5 separate regions of the Homo sapiens genome follow, and all the other regions are linked to region 4. Evidence: fine-mapped expression QTL. A gene starts in region 4. Each other region holds a variant in brackets. All regions are shown on one strand. Distances are between the middles of the regions.

Region 1 (4,119 bases), 75 kb before region 4:
ACAACTAAAATGAATGCAGCTTATTAGAGAATACACAGATTCTAGAGTTAGGTGGGAGACATGGGTGCTGATCTGGCTCTTCCACTAGTCTTTGGTGAAATGCGGATTATCTGTGCTCTTCAGAGCCAGCACAGTAGGGTGAAAAGAGCACTCAACGGGGGCATGCACAGATCATGGTACCATCTTCCTAAATCACTGGGGCTGTGATCTCCAACAAGCCACTTAACCCTTCCTTCTCAGCAAATTCTCCATGGTTTCTTCTCATTGGGAAGATCTCTGAATCCAGAATTACATTAGAGGATGAGGAGGAAAATAAAACATACAGGAAGTGACTATGGCTGAGGAGATAGAAACTAGGATAGCTATAGAGCAGGAGGAAGCACTAGGATCAAAGCAGACTGGACGAGACCACTGAGCTCTGAAAACCAGAGTTTTCAAAACTCCAAGGTGGTTATGAGAGGATAAAGTTGATGTTTAATGTTCAGCTAATCTCTGTAGAAACAGGCTATGCAGACCTGTAGGTTGAATATGGTTCCTGTTCTCAGCAGTCATGAGACCTTGGGATGGTAATAATTTGAAAGTCTTCTTTCTCACCTGTAAAATCAGAACAACATACCAAATAGGGTTGTTGGCTGGATTGAGAGAGTACACATGGAAAACCTAGCAGACTGCCTGGCACACAGGAGGTGCAAAATAAAGTTATTGTCATATACCACCTCAATACTTCTTCCTACAGTGATGCTCTCCAAACTCAAGGATCAGGAACTAAATAGTTAGATTATTCTCTTTTCTCAATTTGAAGCCACCAGTGAGGTTCCCGACATGCATTGTGCTGCTCTGATATCACAAGCCAAGCAGATTTTCCTCAGGCCACTTAATGCGTGTTGCATCAATTCTTCACGTGGCTACTTCTTTAGGCTTTCCCTTTTCACAGAACAACTGCCAGAGAAAGGCTCAATCTATTATGAAAAGTGTGGTTTGATCCACTTGAAAAAGAGAACTGTTCTTTTCTCCCCTTGAGGATCTGAGAAGTTTCTCTATGCATTACTACAGACAAGGGTGTGAATCCAACCCAAGCTCAGGGAAAGACTAGAAGGAAACTCCCTTCACACAGGTGGTGTTTAGTCCCCCACTAGTGGTGCAGTTTCAGAAACTCCAGAAGGGAAACCTTCCCACCTACTCCTTAATGACTGAGAAGCATTTCAAGGGAGAAACAGTTTTTCACACCACAATGGTAACTCGTTCATTCCTGTTGAGAAGAAAATAGTCATGGCCATATCCAAGGTACTCACATGCTAGGCTGTGCTGAACTAAGGGTAAGTGCACTTAAACAGGTGCCTGGGGTATTAATTTACAAGGAGTAACTACATGTCATTGGAGTAATTGGAAATTTGGTGCCAGTTAACTCAGGTTTCCACATGTAATTCCTTATGTTAGCAGCCTAACAAATGAAACTTGGCCCTTTTCCCATTCAACATAAGGAATAAGTCTCTTATTTTAAATTTGAAACTGTGGCAAGAAACTACCTTCTAGAAACAGAGAATCTTGATAACTGGGAGACATGTATTTTGGTGAGAACAAGCTAAAGCATCATCCTTGGAATAATAGGTATTTCATATTCTTGAAGATGGGAGTTAGTAATAGGTGAGGATACGTAAGCTTGGAGTATGGTGGTTGGGGCAATGCCGAGCAGCACAATCCTAGAGCAAGCGAAAGAGAGCAAGAGCCCACAAAAGTGGTTGGAGGGAGTGAGATCTGGGAGGGATAAGGGTGCGGGACAAAGAGAGTAGGATGCTTTGAAAGGGAACAAGAAGGGAGACTTAGCAGCTGACAGGCCTGCTCACAAGGCCCGGGAGACTGATTGTCGATTGGGGATATTCGACAGAAATGCCGTGAGCTGTAAAACCTCATATTCCCTACAGCCCCTAGGCCCACTTGTCTTTCTGCTAAATTATCTTTAAACTCTTTCTCATTCTTGCTAGATAGAGTTTTAGTTTTGGAAAAAGGAATACAAAGATAGTTAAAATGTTCATGATTGTTTTTTCCAACAGAACGCCAGTTTTCCCATTTCTACCAAAAACATGTTGAATAAACATTCTAAGCATGTTCTTTTAAAGGGGTACCACACACTTA[C/AC]CTGCCCAGGGTGCCCACACGGTATGGTCTGATCTTGGTGCCAGGAACTGCATGGGGCTATGTGCATCTCATTTGAGGTACAGTTACTGATATTAAGTGAGGGCCAATGAATCCTCAAGATCTTACCGTGGGGGCTGCATTTGATAAAGGCAAGGGAAGGCAAGGAGAAACTGAGTATAGGAGCAAGAAACTGGATGCTGTGGTTTAAGGACCATATCAGGAAGGAGAGGCTAGGCTCCAAAACAGTAATTGCAGGGTCAGTGCTGATTCATAACTTTGTAAATCTTTTACACCTGCAATTGTGAGGCCCACGCTCCATGAGGAAGAAGGTTGGCCAAGATTTACAAATGTTGATAAACCTAAAAAAGCATTTCTACTCTACCTACAGAGGCTAGGACTGAGAAGTCACTGCTCTTGGCAAATAAGCGATTGGTAATCTGTGTAAGAGAAATTACCAGGAGGGGCAGAAACTGGGACATGTGGAGAGCTGGACAGAAGTGGGTTGAAAAGTGAATACTCAGTGAGGAAATAGGGCTGACCAGAAGGTTTGGTGTTAAAGGAAAGCAGAGAGAATCTGTGATGGCTTTGCAGGTAAGTAAGATAGGCATGAATCTTTTTTTCCAAAAGAAAGAATCTGGAGTTATATTAACCTACAGATGGGTGTTGGTGGCATGCTTCTATTTGACATTTTCTCCTCTCAGCAGCAGAGGGAGGTAGAGAGTAAAAAAAATGATGTGGATTGAGCCCTATAGGAATACAAAGGGCTCCAAAATGGAAGGTATTTATCATAAGGAAATAATTTGAAAATCTCAAGAGCTAACAGGCAGCTCTATAGAATCTCTGCTATTTAGGAGGCAGAAAGACATAACTCGAGTCTAGGGGAAGATGAGATAACATGGGATAAAGAAAGAGATTTGCATTTTAAAAAGACTACGCATATTAAAGTGGCCTTTTCTGATCCTTCTTTAGCATGTCGATGTAGGATCTTATGTAAATATGGGACTTGAGTTTGAGGTCTGGCTTTGTGCATTTTGGATAAACTGCTTTTCCCTAGACCTCAGGAATGAGGGTGACAAAACACCAGGTGGGAACAGAGAAGGAAACAAACCATAACAAAAGTTGCCGCTCCAGAGAATGGAACCTTGCCCTCAACAGCACCGGAGTCTCTCCCTTCCAGTTGAGCCCTTTACCACTTTTTCAAAAAGCCATTTTGAAATGTGGAAGTGAATGCTGAAGTACATGAAGCCACAGTTATTGCTGTGTTTAGGGGGCCATGTCACTGCTGGGCAGACTGTTAGCATATAACTTCAGCATCTCAAAGCACCTAGCAGTCCCTGAAAGGCTGCTAATGCCTGGAGGCAGGCACTCACTTCATTTCAATAGACTTCCCATTCCTGAACCACTTAGAGATGGGGGAAGCCTTTCTTGAATGACTTACTGCATTTTCAGAGAATATGGCCAGGGAACAACTAAGTTACTTTCCTTCATAATCTGATTCAGTCTATATATATTCCAGCAAAATTCTGGCTATCAGCCTTCTAATGTGGTCCTGAAACTGTGTGTGTGTGTGCATGTAAGAGACCGAGAGAGGCTGTTTTCTATCGAAAAGTTCAAACTATCATGTACTTATTTTATCCAGTAATTCAATTTTTTCACCTTTGACTAAACCATCTCAGAATTGCCTGTCTTGCAGTTCTTTAGCTTTTGCTTACCTGGTTCACAATTCAGTGTTAAACAGGAAATGGAGAAACAGGCACCAAGAAGAAAGGAGAGAGATGAGGCGTTCTATGAACATCTGTCCCTGATGAATTCCAAGGAAAGACGGGCCCACTCATGAGAGATCTACTACCCCCCGCAACCCATGTATTCTAGGATCCACGCAGCTCTTTTCAGGTGCTTGTTATTTTGTGGCCATGGTAGCATATTTTGAAAACTCATACCATTGTTGTAAGATTCACATGTAAATCTGAAATCTATTATTTGGTG
Region 2 (4,119 bases), 27 kb before region 4:
ATCAGAAAGAATTCATTGGAGAGAGTTCAAGATTGACAGCAGGAAGCCTAATTTTATATTAGGGTATATATCTAGGTACCTTGAGAAATAAAACATAAATGGACTTCAAAATTAAAATTCTGAGTAGAAAAATAGTTACGCTTTAAAAAATTAAACTTTCAGATTTAGCCAGTAAACTGATGCAAATGGACAAAGTAATTAGATTTTAAGGAAGCAGACGTTTCCTGAAATTCTTAACTGACTTTTTCCAAAGAGAAATAAATTTGATTTGTACTTTTTTAGACTAGGTAATACCTGAGTACTCTGGTGGAATTAAATACTTAATGGTAAAAATACCACTTTTAGAATAGGCAAAGATTTTGTATGAAGCTGTAACACAGAAGAACAGTCATTTACAACACACACACAAAAGGGTGCCAGATATATTCTGGGCCAGGTTAAACATGCTGAGATCAAACATCAACTTAAGAATACACTGGGCCCTGAATCAATGGAAAAATCATTTGGCATTATGACACTCACCATGCAATCAAACCTCTGTTTAAAATCAAGTTACAATTACTCTAATTATGGACAAACATTTCATTTGTTGCACAACTGGTACCTAATCAAACACTTCTGTAGAAGAGATGATTTCACCACAAGGTAACTTAATTTCAGTGCGAAATAAGTCTTTTAAATTATTTTTAAAGAGTGTTTTTAACCAATTTACATGTCAGAAATTTTATTTCTATAAAAATTACTACATGAACTAAGTCTAAATCAAACAAAAATGCCTTCCTCTACTTTGAAACAATAGTCTTCTCTCATAAACATTTTATTCAAATATTTCCCAGCAACAGGCTTGTGTGCACTAACCAGGAAGTGAAACCAAATATGATCATATTGTGAAAGCAGAGTAAAATGAAAGAACACAATTGGAATTATCTGAAGCATTATTAAAATTTCATCTGAAAATCCAATTCCCTTGGAAACAACAATTTAATCAAGGAAGTAATAAAAGGAATTTCAAAAGCATAATTCTTCATTTTCTTGTGTGGCAGTGTCCCCAGTCTTCTATGCAAATATCTTTTCCTGTAGCCAGGCTGGCTCATCTGAAACACAAGCTTTCACCAACCCGCCTGGTGAACACAGGGAGCAGGGTTAAGCAATCATTTTCATGCTAGTAAATCAACTCTGGTATAAACGATTGCAATCTTTAATGACTTACTTTGGAGAAAAATGTATCTTTTGCTTCTTAGGTAACAAGTAAATCACATTTCTCTTAATTATTTTTCTGTGGTTACTGTCATTCCCTTTAATCTATTGTAAATTATAAGCTCTCTAAAACCAGAAAATGTATTTTACTGATTAGTCTGCTTTTAACTGACTCAGTAACCTAAACATAGTGAGAGTTATTATAAGTACCTAACGATTATTCTTATTGTCTAAGGATAGTGTTAGCAAACAAAACTCACTATGGTTTACATTTTTCTGCTAAGATGGATACTAAGTAGGATCATGAATTTCTGGGCTCCATTACCATATCTCTTATTCCAAGGAGATTGGGTGTGGGAGAAGGGGCTAGAAGACACCATGCAAAAACAGAATATATTCTCATTTACTAATTATTATTCTTTATACTTATTTTTAATTTTAAGCAGGATTTGAGTAAGCTTAGTATTATATACAGTACAATATTCTTATGAAAATGTCCTAGCAATCTAAATAAGAAGGTAGTTCCTGAACTACCTATGACTTCAGCAAGTGATCAGGTAGCCCCTATTAGACACTGCACAAACACAATGCAAATCTGAATATTAGTGCTACTCTGCAGACAAAGCAGACATACTGCTGCTCTGTATAAGAATGAAATGTAAAAGGAAAAAAAACTATGAATAAATAAGCAGTGACAGACAAATCTATTAGCACGGTACATGCATGTATATAAATATATATAATAATCAAATCATGTGGCTAGTGAATTCTAGAAACACTTGAGAGCCTACTATGTTTTAAGAACAGTGTCACACTTAAGAAACTGAGTCAATTCTATTGCCATGGTGTTAAGAGGTTGAAGAGCCTGGCTAGTGGGTCTCATTCAGAGCTTGTCTGTGGACGCACCAAAAGTATTGAGGCAGGCCAGACCGCTAGTCAGTCCCGTTTTCTTTGGGGACCCTCTTTTCTTGTTACTCCCTCACTCACTTTATCAAATACTGCACTTTCACCACAGAGCCTGATCCTTTATATTTATATTCATTGAATTCTCTTGACAGGGAGAATTCATTGAGCATTTGCTGTGGTATGGGCTGAATAAGATAAGAAAGTATATTTCATTTTCTATCTATCCTTAAAACACTTATAAAGTTAGGAAAATGAGAAATTTGTACAAAAAGTGAACAGGAAAAAAATGAAGGATTAAATAGTGGAGTGGAACAACTCTGAACATCTATATAATGCTCAAAAGTTTATGGAGCATTTTTTTCATAGTCATTTAAATCATACACTTGACTTTAGGATAAGGATACAAGCTCAGAGAGAAAAAAAATTAG[C/T]TGCTGATGACACATGGCTGGTGAGCAAGAGCTTGATCCTATAACTGACACCAAACATGGTGCTCTTCCAACCATCCAAAGCTTCCTCTTGTAAGATGAACAGGTATAGCTCAGGGAATGGAGAAGGCAACATAGATAAGGTATCTCTGAGCCGTTAGGGATATGCAGGGGCTGGAGCAGGAAAAAAATCTCCAGCGGGGTAGTGGGGAGGGAAAGAGCAGAGGGGTGTTGCCTGAGGAAGAGCAGTGAGGCTGCAGAGGATCTTCACGGCCAGAGGGGGACGACTTCACAAATAAATGAGGCAGTGAGGACATTTACGGTTGGAGATTCCAGAATATGAGAGTATGGCTTGAATTGACTTACAAAAGAGAACAATTATAGATTCTAAAATAGAATGCAAGCAATATTTTAGGAAAACTAACCTGGTAAGGCATGAGAGATACAATGGGGCAGGATCGGGGGCCGGGGGAAATGAAGGTAAGGAAACCAGGCAGGAACCTACTGCAGTCATTCAATGCTGAAGCAGTGAGAGTGAAGACCATGGTAGTATCAGTGAGACTGACCAGGAATGAAGGAATTTAGGCAGAACTGTGGGTTCTGGCTGACTAGAGAGCTGGGAAAAGGGAAGAGCAGTAAAGTTGGGCTGGTGAAAGGCTCTGTTATAAAGTGCTAGTTAATATTCCAATATTCAGTGGAAGACCAAGGAGCTAACTGGTGAATTTTGCCCTTTCATATCAAAGCAAGGCTAATAATTAACATAATTAATCTTTTATGCTTTATTAAAGGTTTGGCATAGCTAAGGTTTGACTGAGTACTGTTCTCGCAAGTGAACCTAGCGGGAAAGCTGAAGAAGGTGAGATGAAAAGGCCATTTAGGTCCAGACCTAATGAGACACAGGTACCATTCTATTGAACCCAAAAAGGTATTTGTGAAAGGGAGTGACTTAATCCAGTCAGCGTCAAATCTTAAATTTAAAAAGTTAGAATTTGCCACTTTGGTAGCAGCATGAACAACTCGTTAAAAAGGAGAAATACACATAGGGAGGAGATCAGGATAGATCAATTGTCCAGATGATAAACAGGAAAGGTGGCTTGAACTAAGATGTGCCTGAGTGTGAAGAGAAGAGGGGATAGAAGCAAAAGTACTACTATTACTTTTAAGTGCTTTCGAGCAGGTTCTCTGCTAACTAGCTTATGGGCATAGACTCTAGGGCTCCTTAGGTATCCCTTAGAAGGACTTGGTAGCAGATTAGATGTTAAGGAGAGTCAGGACTCAAGGACAAGTGACTTATCCTAGCTTTGGCCACAGGGTCAATGATGAAGGGGGCTAATGAGTGTGTTATTTAAAACACTGAGTTTGCAGTACCTGTGGGCCATCCAGGTAGTGAGGTCTAGTAGGCAGCTGAAAACACAAACTGGAGCCCTAGGGAGAGGAAAAAATATAAATGAGTTTGTTAAGCTGTTTTTGCTGAAGACTTGGGCCAATGTTGGACTTAAAGACCTGCACTTGGTAAAATTTTAAAAGTTATTTAAAATAAATAACTCAATGCAGCCTCAGTCCATCTCCCATATAAAAGAACTCATTTAAT
Region 3 (4,119 bases), 48 kb before region 4:
TGGCAGTAATGTTCTGGATCTGATCTTTGGACCTGAGGCCACTTCTTTCTTTGAGTATCTTTTGCTGGGTAGAGGAACTGGTCTTTTGCTGGGTAGAGGAGCTGGGGATGAGAAACAGTCGGATTTACAATCTGAGAAAATTCAGGATTGGAAATACTTCCTCTAAAGTCTGCTTAAAATTAAAATAGTTTCTTCTTTAATTAGTCTCTTTCTTGAAATACTTTGATCACAGTATCAAAAAAAAAGGGGAGTTAAAAAAGGAGTTAAAGGGGTCACTCAGAGCTTCTGATATTTTGCTGGAAAATCTCCTGAGCTAGATCCACAAGTTCATTAGGTTCATTTTCTATGTTCCATGTTACTGTAGGTCATGGTCTTGCTGACTTTTTTCTCAATATAAAACAAGGGTACCATTTGACATCCTCCAATAGCAATAGTATTCTAACTGCCCTTCAGGCCTTCACTGACACCTGGTCTCAAAGCCAAAATGCCAGATTTTTGTTATGCCAGCATCTCACTTCTAGGTACCAATTTTTGTTTTGATTCTTTATTCTGTGTAACAAGTCACATCAAAACTTAGTGGCTAAAGTAACAATTCATAATTTCTCATGATTCTATGGGATGATCTGGCAGTTCACATGGTGAGGGCTGGAATGCTAGAATACTCAGAAGGCCCAAAGTGCCTCAAGTCACAACACTGGTGCTTCTACTGATTGCTGGCTGGGAGCCCAGCTTCGGCTGTCGACCAGGGGCCTTGCCAGTCCTCTATATGGCTAATTGGGCTTCCTCATAGCAAGAGACTAAGATCTAAGAGGAATGTTTCAAGCACACAAAAGCAGATGCTACAAGTCTCTTAAGGCCCAGCCTTGGAAATTACTCCACACCATTTCTGCCACATTCTATTGATCAAAAAACCTACCACAGCCAGCCAGATTCCAAGGGTGGGGATATCAACTCCACCTCTTGATAGGCAGAGTTGCTAGGCCTTAGCAGCCATGTTTAGCCCACCGTAGGAAGTCATGAACACTTAAGTGGTGGTCAGTGCCACAGAAATGAATTATCTGAGAGAAAGAATTTAGTGAGTGAAGGACAGAATTGCTGTCCCCTCTATAAAATAGATAAGGAAGGTTTATTAGATAAGGAAGATTGAAAAAGGATAGAGAAGCAGGATCAGTGAGGTAAAGGAGAAGCACAGTATTTCTGGAACACAAAAATCAGAATTCAAGGAAAGAAGCTGACATCATCATAAAATAATACACAGAAACCAAAGGAGAAGAGAGACATACAACTGCCATTCCAGAGCTTCTGACCCAAAACTGTAGTAAGATAATGGGTCTGGGAAACAATTTGATGAATACTCTAAACATTAGGAAAATCACCCTAGTCATCAGAAGCCCTTGGAGAAAGTTATTGAATAAATGAAATAAAATAAATAATTATAAATAGTAAGTAATAAATTAAATAAAAAAGTTACTGAGTGAATTAAAACCATGGAAAAATTCTAGAAATCCTAATGACATCTGAGTTGTTCTTTTTTTTTTTTTCTTTTTTTGAGACGGAGTCTTGCTCTGTGCTCAGGCTGGAGTGCAGTGGCGCGATCTTGGTTCACTGCAAGCTCCGCCTCCC[A/G]GGTTCACACCCTTCTCCTGCCTCAGCCTCCTGAGTAGCTGGGACTACAGGTGCCTGCCACCACGCCCGGCTAATTTTTTGTATTTTTAGTAGAGATGGGTTTTCACCATGTTAGCTAGGATGGTCTCGATCTCCTGACCTCGTGATCCGCCCACCTCAGCCTCCCAAAGTGCTGGGATTACAGGCGTGAACCACCGTGCCTGGCCGACATTTGAGTTATCCTAAACTTTAAGGAATATTGCTTCATTTTTACTTATTTCTGGCAGTTATAGAATACATCATATATTTAATGTAGATAATATTTTTCTCTTTAGGAAAAGATCTCTCAATTCTTTGAAGTTTTTAGTAAGCTACCATATTTTCTAAAATCTATTTAAAATAAAAGAAGTTGCAGCCATATTCTTGTAATATTAACACAAGCATAAGCCACTAGTTGCTGGATAATTCTTACAGAGAAGGTGTAAATAGAAGGCAACCTCAAATCCTTCTCCATCACCTTTTGCTGTTTATAAGACTATTTTCCTGACCACCCCCCAACACCACAGTAAGCAAGCCATAATACGTAGAACAAAACCCACTCCCTATGTAGTCCCTTCTGAATCACACTCTCACCTTTCAAATGACAGGCAGACAGCAGAGACCAAGTGGACGAAAGAATCTCAAAGTTGGAAGATGGCCTTTCTGAATGAACAAAGCCTCCAAGAAATATGGGATTATATAAAAAGACTGAATCTATAGCTGATTGGTTTACCTGAAAGAGATGGGGAGAATGGAACCAACCTGGAAAACATATTTCAGGGTATCATCCATGAAAACTTCCCCAATCTAGCTAGAGAGGCCAACATTCAAATTCAGGAAGTGCAGAGAACCTCAGTAAGATACTTCACAAGGAGATCATCCCCAAGACACATAATCAACAGATTATCTAAGGTTGAAATGAAAGACAAAATGTTAAATAGGCAGCTAGACAGAAAGGTCAGGTCGCCTACAATGAAAAGCCCTTCAGACTAATAGCGAACCTCTCAGCTGAAACCCTACCAGCCAGAAGACATTAGGGGTCAATATTCAACATTCTTAAAGAAAAGAAATTTTAACCCAGAATTTCATATCTGGCCAAATGAAGCTTCATAAGCATAGGAACACCCAGATTCATAAAGCAAGTTCTTAGAGACCTTAAAGAGACTTAGACTCCCAATCAAAAATAGTAGGAGACTTTAACACCCCACTGACAATATTAGACAGATCATTGAGACAGAAAATTGACAAAGATATTCAGGACCTAAACTCAGCACTGAATCAAATGGACCTGATAGATATCTACAGAACTATCCAACCAAAACAACAGAATATACATTCTTCTCAATGCCATTGCCACATGGTACAAACTCTAAAATTGATCACATAATTGGAAGTAAAACATTCCTTAGCAAAAAAGAAAAAAAAAAGAAAGAAAGAAAACCAGCACACAACAATAATCCCCTCTCTCACCACTCCTGTTCAACATAGTATTGAAGTCTTTGCCGGGCAATCAGGCAAGAGAAAGAAAGTGCACCCAAATAGGAAAAGAGGAAATCAAAGTATCCCTGTTTGTGATGTCGTGGTTTTATATCTAGAAAACCCCACAGTCTCAGCCCAAAAGCTTCTTAAGCTGGTAACTTCAGCAAAGTCTCCAGATACGAAATCAATGTATGAAAATCACTAGCATTCCTATACACCAACAACAGTCACGTTGAGAGCCAAATCAGGGACAAACTCCCATTTACAACTGGCACAAAAAGAATAAAATACCTAGGAATACAGATAACTAGGGAGAACTACAAACCATTGCTCAAAGAAATTGGAGATGACACAAAAGAAATGGAAAAACATTCCATGGTCATGGATAAGAAGAATCTGTATCATTAAAAATGTCCATATTGCTCAAAGCAATATATGTATAGATTCAATGCTATTCCTATTAAACTACCATTGAAATTCTTCACAGAACTAGAAAAAACTATTTTAAAACTCACATGGAACCAAAAAAAGAACCTGCACAGCCAAGGCAATGCTAAGCAAAAGGAACAAAGCTGGAGGCATCACATTGCTAAACTTCAAACTATACTACAGGGCTACAATAACCAAAAATAGCATGGTACTGGTACAAAGCGGACACATAGACCAATGGCACAGAATAGAGAACCCAGAAATAAGACTGCATACCTACAACTATCTGATCTTCAACAACACAGAAACAAGCAATGGGAAAAGGATTCCCTATTTGATAAATGGTGCTCGGATAACTGGCTAGCCATATACAGAAGATTAAAACTGGACCCCTTCCTCACACCATATACAAAAACGAACTCAAAATGGATTAAAGGCCAAATTATAAAAACCCCAAATTATAAAAACCCTGGAAGACAACCTAGGCAATACCATTCAGGACAATAAGCATGGGCAAAGATTTCATAATGAAGATGCCAAAAGCAATTGGAACAAAAGCAAAAATTGACA
Region 4 (4,119 bases):
TCAGGTACTATTAGAAGAATTTGAAAACTAAAATACAAAAACAAAAACCCTTGTTTATAAGAAAAACATTGGCTAAAACAAGGATGTTCTAAATTGTAAAATATTTTTCCCCTTAAACTTCAGAAAACAACAAAAAATAACAAATTTCAGGCCACTACAGGAAAATACATGGATTAGTCTAAAAAACTTGGAAGGCTTAGTATCCTTTAAGTTTTATTAAGCCCCTTTTCATTTTACTTACTGTTGGTGTTTTCACTCTGAGGATTCTGAAAATTAAAATAGCAATGGGAAATGGTGATAGTGGTAGAGAAGAGGTTTAAAAAAGCAAATCTCAACTAGTCAAATGAAATCATTCAAAATGTGAAAAGATTCATAATAGGCTGAACATGTTGGAACACCTTACCAATTGAGGAAAAAGAGAACACATTTCAAAGAATGGTAAACTTAATTCCGACATGCAGATTTAAAAATGTTGTTGGGGATACTAAGTATAAGGAAAGTGCCATGACCCAAGGGTGCACTCAATGACAACATCACCCCCATTCAAGAGACCTCTTTTTAGCTTACAGAAATATCAGACATGTTAGGGCTTATATTCTAAAATTACACAGGCCCAATTACCTTGGGGGTTGGCTGTCACTTTATATTCTCTGAGTAGAGCTGCTGACAAGGAAAGCCAGGAGAAAAAGAAAGTCACCTCGGCACCCACAATTCAGAGAGCATTTGGGGTCACACCTGTAATCCCAGCACTTTGGGAGGCCGAGGTGGGTGGGTCACTTGAGGTCAGGAGTTTCAGACCAGCCTGGCCAACATGGTGAAACCCCGCCACCACTAAAAATATAAAAATTAGCTGGGCGTGGTGGCGGGCCCCTGTAGTCCCCGCTACTCGGGAGGCTGAGGCAGGAGAATCACTTGAACCCAGGAGGTGGAGGTTGCAGTGAGCCGAGATCGCACTACTGCACTCCAGCCTGGGCGACAGAGTGAGACTCCGTCTCAAAACAAAACAAAGAAACAAAACAAAGAGCATTTGGGGTTCTCAGGAGGTGTAGCCTGTACACATAGAGGGTACTGGAATTGTTTAAAAAATTACACTGCAGTTTGACTTCTTTTCCATCCTCACTCCTACACCTAGGTTTAGGGGACAGAACCATCTGATAAAGATAAATCTGTTTTAAGATTTCTGGGGTGTTCTGCAAAGACTACTATATCATTTGCAAATAGGTTGTCTTTTAATAAAAATCATGCTACGTAATGTCTTCTTAATATACGCTGAACAAATTGCCTGTTTTAATTTGGCTATATATCTACAATTTAAAATGTTCATACTGTTATCTTTTACCAGTGGAGTGTTTTTTTGTTTGTTTGTTTGAAGTCTTTAGGCGAAGTGAATTTATTCAAGGAAGTTCACATGTCGGTTTTGTTCTTTTAGAGGGGTGTCTTTTTGACCACAAAGAAAAAAAAAGTTTTCCACAAATGTCATCTAACTAAAGGCAATCTATGGACTTTAGGAAGTCAGTTGAGCACACAGATTAATGAGCCAATACTGAGCCTCCTCCCTTCTGACCTCTCAGCACCTGCTCAACTAAGCTCAGGGGAAACTCTTGAGTCTTCTTCTTAAATTGGTAACGCTTGCCCTTTCTTTCTCAAACAAATCAACGCCCAACACCACCACCAAATTATAGGCAACCAACGCGTATCCAACAGCATAAAATAGTTCCCAAGAGCATAAAATAGTTCCCAACAGCGCCAGCGCAGGGGGCAAAACAGAGCGACCAAATGGGGGCACCCTCAGGGGAGTTGCGCTCATCTGGAGCGAGACGCCAGCCTGGGAAAGCGGAACCCCTTTCCCGCCCCGCCCCGAGGACTCACGCTCAGGTGCAACGCCGAGACTCCCGGGGGAAAGAGAGGTGACCGTCTCGGCGCGACCGCCCACACCTCTTGCTCCAAATGACCCCAGCACACAGGAGAGGTCCTCTCAGCGTGGGACTCCGTCTCTCCCGAAGGCAGGGAGCACAACGAAGCGGCCACTCGTCTCTGCAGCCGCGCTACCGGCCCGCAGCCTGGCTCGCAGGTGAGGCGTGAACAGGTAACCGCACCTGTTCGGCCAGCCCCACCTGCTGCGTCCCCGTATCCGGTCCTCCTCCTCCACCACCTCGGTCGGCGCGGCTCGCCCTCCTGGAACCGGGGTGTCACGCTCCGACCTACCTGCGCGACTCCAGCCCCGGACGCCCGCGCTCCCCGCGGCGTGCTCCTGGGCCGCTCCGGGCGGGCAGGCTGCGGCCCCGCGCCCGCACTTTCCCGGCTGCCGGAGGCTGCGGGCTCAGCGGGAAGCCCCGGCGCTGTCCGGCTCGCCGCCTCCGACCGGCTCCATTGTGACGCGACGCGTTCCGCTGGCCAATGGGCGCTCGGCGGCGCGAACCGCTGACTAAGTTCGCGGGTGGAGGAGGAGGGGACGGGGCGGAGGCAGGGCGCGGAGGCGGCTACCACGGTGGTGGCGGTAGCAGTGGCGGAGGAGGAGGAGGAGGAGGAAGAGGAGGAAGAGGCTGCAGTCGCTTCGGTAGCTGCTCCTGCTGTGAATTTTTCAGCTGCCTGGGCCTGAGTGTTTGCCCAGCTCTGGGGCTGCGGGAGCCAGTGACTCACCTATCACTGCTGGAAACAAAGCGCAGCTGCCATCTCCCCGAGCGCGCCATGTGGCCATCGCTGCCCCCTCGCCCAGCCTGGGGTCCGCAGGAGGTAGCGCACAGCCATACGCCCCGCGGAGCAGCTGGAAAGAGCGGGGACTGCTTTCCAGAAGCGGGAGGGAAATGGGCTTCGGCGTGTCCCCCAGGCGCGCCACACCGGTGACTTCGGCACTACACCGCGTGTGTCGGGCCCCAGCCTTCTCACGTGTGCGTCCCTGAGTAACTTGGCATTTATATAACGCGTGTTGGGCCCTGAGGGAAAGGTCGGGTGCAGCACGCGGGAACCTCCTCTTCGAAAAGGAAGTCCCCTTACTTTTCTTTACCCTGCTTAGAAAGATTGCAGGGCCCAGCCTCTGTGAGGGAGGGTTTACAGTTGTACCAACTAAGCGGCTTAAGTTCGATTCTGGCCTTCCAATACCATTGGCTTCTCTCAAATGTCGTTATCCTCAGGATAGGGAGGGGACCACATGGCCGAGGGGCGGTCCCTATACTCATAACCTGCCTTTCACTGCGATTCAACTGCAGAGACACCTCAACTACTGCCCGCTTGCTTCTCTCCCAAGTGGCACTGCATTTGAAGGCCAACAATATTCCTTACGAAACAGAATTAATCCAAACCCACAAATTCTAGGGACATAAATATTTTTATCATCCTCATCCATTTCCCCACTCTCACCCTTACCCCAGTTTTAACTCAGTCTCTGCCCTGGCTATTATCTTGAGCACACTGATTCAATTAGGCAAGATTTATGTCTTTTAGTTGCTATGGTGGTCACATCTCCATTTAAAAAAAGAAAGAAAAAACAAGTTTGTACCGGCATCTCCCAAAGGAATAAAATGAAGACGAACAGACTCAGCATTTGGGGCATCTGAGCAGTTTGTGTAAATGGGAGTATAGCAAATGCCCTATCGAGTTAATATGAGACAAGAGTTGTGTCTCAGACTGTTCAGATGAGGACTACAATTTGAGTCACCCTGAAAGGGAAAAAGAAGGCTGTCTTTGTGTCACTGATCTGTTCTTTTCTTGTTCACTCAGTCCATTCTGGAACTGCAGATATCTTTTTTCTGAGTCTTGAAGGAAAAGCTGAAAGAACATTTCTTCACTTGGTCATTCGATAAATTTTTATTGAGTTTATATGTGTGAGACACTGGGTATGCACAGATCTACAAGTCTAATTTAAATTTAGGTTTGATCCTTACAGGAGTATCTGAAATTCTCTCAGGGACTTTCTGATTAATTATTTTTGGTAGAAGAAAATTCTAAAAGACTCTGTCACTACTTTCACAGCCAGATTTACCCAAGTCTAAAATAGTGATTAAAAATTCCATCATGGATTTTAAGCACCAAAAAAATGACAGGCAGGTCTCAATCGTTTTAGAGGTTTATTTTGCCAAGGTTAAGGACATTCCCCAGGAGAAAGCACAAATACAGGAACAT
Region 5 (4,119 bases), 58 kb before region 4:
GATACTGAATAAAAGAAAGAATGGATTTACTTACATTGTTGTTGGTCACAGCAAAGTACTGCAAATTACTCAGATACTGGATTTCTTCTGGAATGAAGGTCAAGTGGTTATAGCTTAGATCCAAATAATGTAGTTTAGTGCATAGGAAAAGCTGCAAGGGCAGATTCTCAATATTATTATGGTCCAAAGAGAGCTGCTCTAGGTTAGATAATGCCCCAATCTGTGCAGGAATATAAGCAATGTTATTGTGCCACAACTTTAAGCAGGAAAGATTCTGAAGATGCTGAAAGCTAATGATCTCTTCCACAGTTTTAAGGTTATTTTCCCTTAGGTCTAACTCATGCAAATTATTCAGGCTGAAAATGGAATGTGGGATGCGTTCCAGGTCACAGCTGATCAGTTCTAGGCTTTTCAGATTGACCATCTTTTTCAAGTTGTTCAACACAACCAGTTTGCTTCCCTCATTATCAAGGGACAGTTTCTGCAATGAAGGCAGGAGGTCTGTAACAACTTGTGGGATCCGGGAGAGGCTGCTCTTCAAGTACAGGGTCCTTAGATTTTTTAAGTCCTGAAAGCCCTCCAACTGCATAGTACTCAACTGTTCAGGGAGAACACAGCCCGAAAGATAAAGTTCCTTGAGATTCTTGAGGTGAAATACCCAGCGTGGGATTTTTCCCATTTCAGTAAATTTCAGGCGGAGGATTTTTAAATTCTCCTCTAGAAAGGCCAGTGCAGGATGGTCTACGACCAGAGATGAATGGTACACACGAAGCTCCTTGAGGTTGACCAGCTGTGAGACTGCAGAGGGCAGCTTCACCTCTGGGATAAGCTCCAGGCTTAGCACTTCCATTTCAGTTAACTCAAAGACATTGTCTGGAAGACCGTTGAGCATAAAAAGATGCAGTTCTATCTTGTCCTGGGCATTTTTCACAAGCTTACTTTTCAGTTTCTCAACTGTCCATTCATTATTGAGGTTGATCTGTTTCAGTTTGTTCTCACTGACCTCTGATAGGAATATGGAGAAGCGTTTGGAATAAAGAGGATCATACTGATCAGCCAGATGAAGGATGAAGGCAAAGTCATTCTTGACATCAGGGATGTCACTGTAGTTGCTTTTTTCTCTTAACGCCTCAAAGGAATATTGCTTCAGGGAACTCCTCAGCATCCACCACAGGCTGTAGGAAGAGGTCAGACCATAAAGTATAACCAAAATGACATAAAATGAAGCCAGGACCTTAAAGATTTCTGCCAAGGAATAGACACACTGGTAGCGCTTATATCCTGTAAAAGCCTGCACATCAACTGAACAGTCGATTTCAAGAGTGATGTGGGTTAAAAAATATGGAACATAAGTTATGATGAGCACAAACAAAATGACTTTGACTATTATCTGTTTCAGATATACTCTATAAATGATGTCCTTCTGCTCCACATGCATGCGGAATCTTTTCACTTTTTCAAAGATGGCTTTGGCCTGTTCACCCTCCTTCTTGTCCAGGACACTGGAAGTTGGGCTTTCTATGCCAGCTGACTCCAAACCTGGCTGTGGGTAGGGCAATGACTGTTTGCCGGAATCTATGTCAGCTGAACACCCTGAGGACGAAAGCAAAATCTTGGACTTGGAGAGTTTCAGAGGCCTCACTGACTGCTCAGCCACTGTTTCTGAAAGGGCGCGGGTGGTCCATGGAGAATCGAAGCACTTGTGAAGGATGGCCACAAAATGCTCGAGCCTGGAACTGGTACTGGGGTAGTGAAGCCAAAAGTTGCTGCAGGCTGCAAAGATGAGCGTGTGCAAGAGCACCAGATAGGGGAAAAACTTTGCAAACCAATGGAGCTGTTTCTCGTAACAGACGGCATCAATATAGGAGTACTGCTGTCGGTGGAGGTCATTCTGAATTCGGAGGGGGAGCGGAAGCGGTGTCCCAGGATTAGAGGATGTGTTCATGCTGGCTTTCAGGATGTCCCAAGGCACGGCACAGTGATTGTCAAATTCCACTTTGCATGGAAGACAGCACAGAACCCTGCTCTGCGTCAGCTGGAGAGCTCCGGCCAGCACGGCCACCAGCAGCATGATCAGTGTGATGTAATACCAGAAGACGTCCCACCATGGTTTTAAGATGTGATAAGATGACTG[G/A]GCATCTGCTAAGCATTTTAGCTCAGTTAGTGTAATCATGACTTTCCCTTGTAGGAGGACAGAAACTGGAAGAGGGAAATAAAAGAAACACTACTGAAGCAAGTACTCAAATAAGCATTTTACTCTAATATTCATACACACATGCCCTCCTTCCCAAGTAGGATTTAGCTCTGGGGTAAAACCTAAAAGGAAGAGCTGATTAAGGGGCACATAAGTCTTCTGGTTTCATTTGAAACTATAGGCCATCCAACTCTGAACCATAGTCTCTTAGATGGGGGACCATTTAGTGATACTGACTAGAAAGAAATTTAGGGGTAGCCCTTGAGGTAATTATCTCGTTACCTCTTGTATCTCAACTCCAGGCTAGGCTACTAAAAACCAGGAGCCAATTTTTCTTCAACTGACATTTGAAAAACTTGTTCCTATGCTACTAATATTTTTTTCTTTCTTTCTTTCTTTTTTTCTTCCTTTTTTTTTTGAGACAGGGTCTCACAGGCCTCAGACTCTTGGCCTCAAGTGATCCTCCCTGCTTGGCCTCTGAAAGTGCTGGAATTACAGCTATGAGTCACCACAGCCAGCCACCTAATTTCCAGTGGTCACATTTTACCTTCCAAAATGTCTGAGTAAGCTCCTTTCCACACCTTGTCCCATGTCTGAAGCATCACTTACAGCCCAAGAGTTGTTTTAGTCACCACAAGGAGCCTCTTTTAAGCAAGCTCTGCTTTGTGAAATTACCCCTTAGGCTTAGTGGGGTCTACAATTCTATGCCCAGAACAACCTGTCACTGAATGCATTATCTCCTTTCCACACAAGCTTTCGCTTTGTAATTTAAGTACATGAGTATGAAAAAACTTAGAGTATTTAAAAGTTGGGAAGTATTTAAAAGTTATGGCTTAAAAAAGAATAAGAAAGAAAAGCTCTGCTAGAATATTCTATCATGGGGACTCCCTCTCATGTTTAATGTTGTGATGGCAAAGTACTAAAAGGATAAACGATGGAGGCATATTCCATTATTAAATTACTTTTGCCTTCAGGAAAACAAGATTATCTTGTATTTTCATACTGAAAAGTATTCAGACAACATTCCTGAGAATTTCTATGTTGAGTCTTACATACATCAATTGTTTCAAAAATTGCTAATCAGTAAAATCCAGATGATCTATAAGATGGCACAGAGTAAAGTAAAAGGAAATATGTGGGTCTTAGAAAATATCTGATAAGAAAAAGAAGAAAAATAATAATGGTAGCATGGTGCCCCCTTGCTGGTAGTCCAGCTCTAATCTATTTTCAAGGGTTTCTCTTGGATTTTCTTGAGTCTGAAGTCTTATCATTTATTCTGGGCCAGAGTTACTCTCTAGACACTCTAGTATTAGTAGCATCCCCAAGGAAGCCTTTTTTTTTTTTTTTTTTTTTTTTGAGACGGAGTCTAGTGGCGTGATCTCAGCTCACTGAAACCTCCACCTCCTGGGTCCAAACAATCCTCCCGCCTCAGCCTCCCGAGCAGCTGGGACTACAGGCACATGGCATCACGCCCAGCTAATTTTTGTGTCTTTTTAGTAGAGACAGGAGATGGGGTTTCACCATGTTGGCCAGGCTGGTCTCGAACTCCTGACCTCATGATCTGCCCACCTTGGCCTCTCAAAGAGCTGAGATTATAGGCCTGAGCCACTGTGCCTGGCCAGGAAGACTTTTTTACTCTCATTTGCCCTCTTTCTGGGGTCTGGTATCCTGCCTTGAACCTTAGAGTCCCATTACAGAGTCCCTGCTCCCTGTTAATAAGTCTCATCCTCAGCATATTCCTGACCATCTGACCCTGAACCCTACAGCTTCATGCTCTTGTACCTGTTAAGGCATTTTACAATTTCTGAGCTTAACTGCTGGACTGGAGCACTACTTTCTGCTTGTGTCCTCTCTGGGTATCACATAATATTATATGGATTCACCTTCCTCCTAGGACCTACAGGTGGATTATATAGCTCTTCAGG

Direction of the effects. Positions count from the first base shown, and alleles are read on the strand shown. Sizes are in standard deviations (SD) of each study's normalised expression. Not every link is listed here.
For the expression in subcutaneous fat of the gene that starts at base 2,399 in region 4, A is the low allele of the variant in region 3 and G is the other (small effect, 0.36 SD a copy in GTEx).

The links. PIP is the estimated chance that this variant, and not a neighbour inherited with it, causes the effect. A credible set is the group of variants that fine-mapping cannot tell apart.
Region 1: its variant is the best candidate, but not a certain one, in a credible set for the expression of LRRC8B in whole blood (INTERVAL, PIP 0.90).
Region 2: its variant is the best candidate, but not a certain one, in a credible set for the expression of LRRC8B in whole blood (INTERVAL, PIP 0.76).
Region 3: its variant is the best candidate, but not a certain one, in a credible set for the expression of LRRC8B in subcutaneous fat (GTEx, PIP 0.57).
Region 5: its variant is the best candidate, but not a certain one, in a credible set for the expression of LRRC8B in testis (GTEx, PIP 0.71).

Annotation. Positions count from the first base shown.
Region 1 is chr1:89,597,947-89,602,065 of GRCh38, reverse strand. No RefSeq gene overlaps it. Among named protein-coding and RNA genes, the nearest start is that of LRRC8C-DT, 33 kb to the left of the region's middle. RefSeq lists enhancers at 1,050-1,299, 3,347-3,863. The variant C/AC (reference allele first, on the strand shown) is at 2,134.
Region 2 is chr1:89,549,749-89,553,867 of GRCh38, reverse strand. All of the region lies in intron 1 of LRRC8B (leucine rich repeat containing 8 VRAC subunit B), which reads right to left. It overlaps LOC124904216 (a long non-coding RNA gene), which reads left to right and starts at 2,979. Exons shown (of 3, transcript XR_007066214.1): 1 at 2,979-3,008; 2 at 3,317-3,384. The variant C/T (reference allele first, on the strand shown) is at 2,532.
Region 3 is chr1:89,570,729-89,574,847 of GRCh38, reverse strand. All of the region lies in intron 3 of LRRC8B (leucine rich repeat containing 8 VRAC subunit B), which reads right to left. Among named protein-coding and RNA genes, the nearest start is that of LRRC8B, 48 kb to the right of the region's middle. The variant A/G (reference allele first, on the strand shown) is at 1,624.
Region 4 is chr1:89,523,109-89,527,227 of GRCh38, reverse strand. LRRC8B (leucine rich repeat containing 8 VRAC subunit B) reads right to left here and starts at 2,399. Exons shown (of 6, transcript NM_001369817.2): 1 at 2,206-2,399. RefSeq lists enhancers at 371-872, 873-1,374 and a silencer at 2,076-2,535.
Region 5 is chr1:89,580,705-89,584,823 of GRCh38, reverse strand. It overlaps LRRC8B (leucine rich repeat containing 8 VRAC subunit B), which reads right to left. Exons shown (of 6, transcript NM_001369817.2): 5 at 35-2,199. The coding sequence starts at 2,173. Among named protein-coding and RNA genes, the nearest start is that of LRRC8C-DT, 50 kb to the left of the region's middle. The variant G/A (reference allele first, on the strand shown) is at 2,135.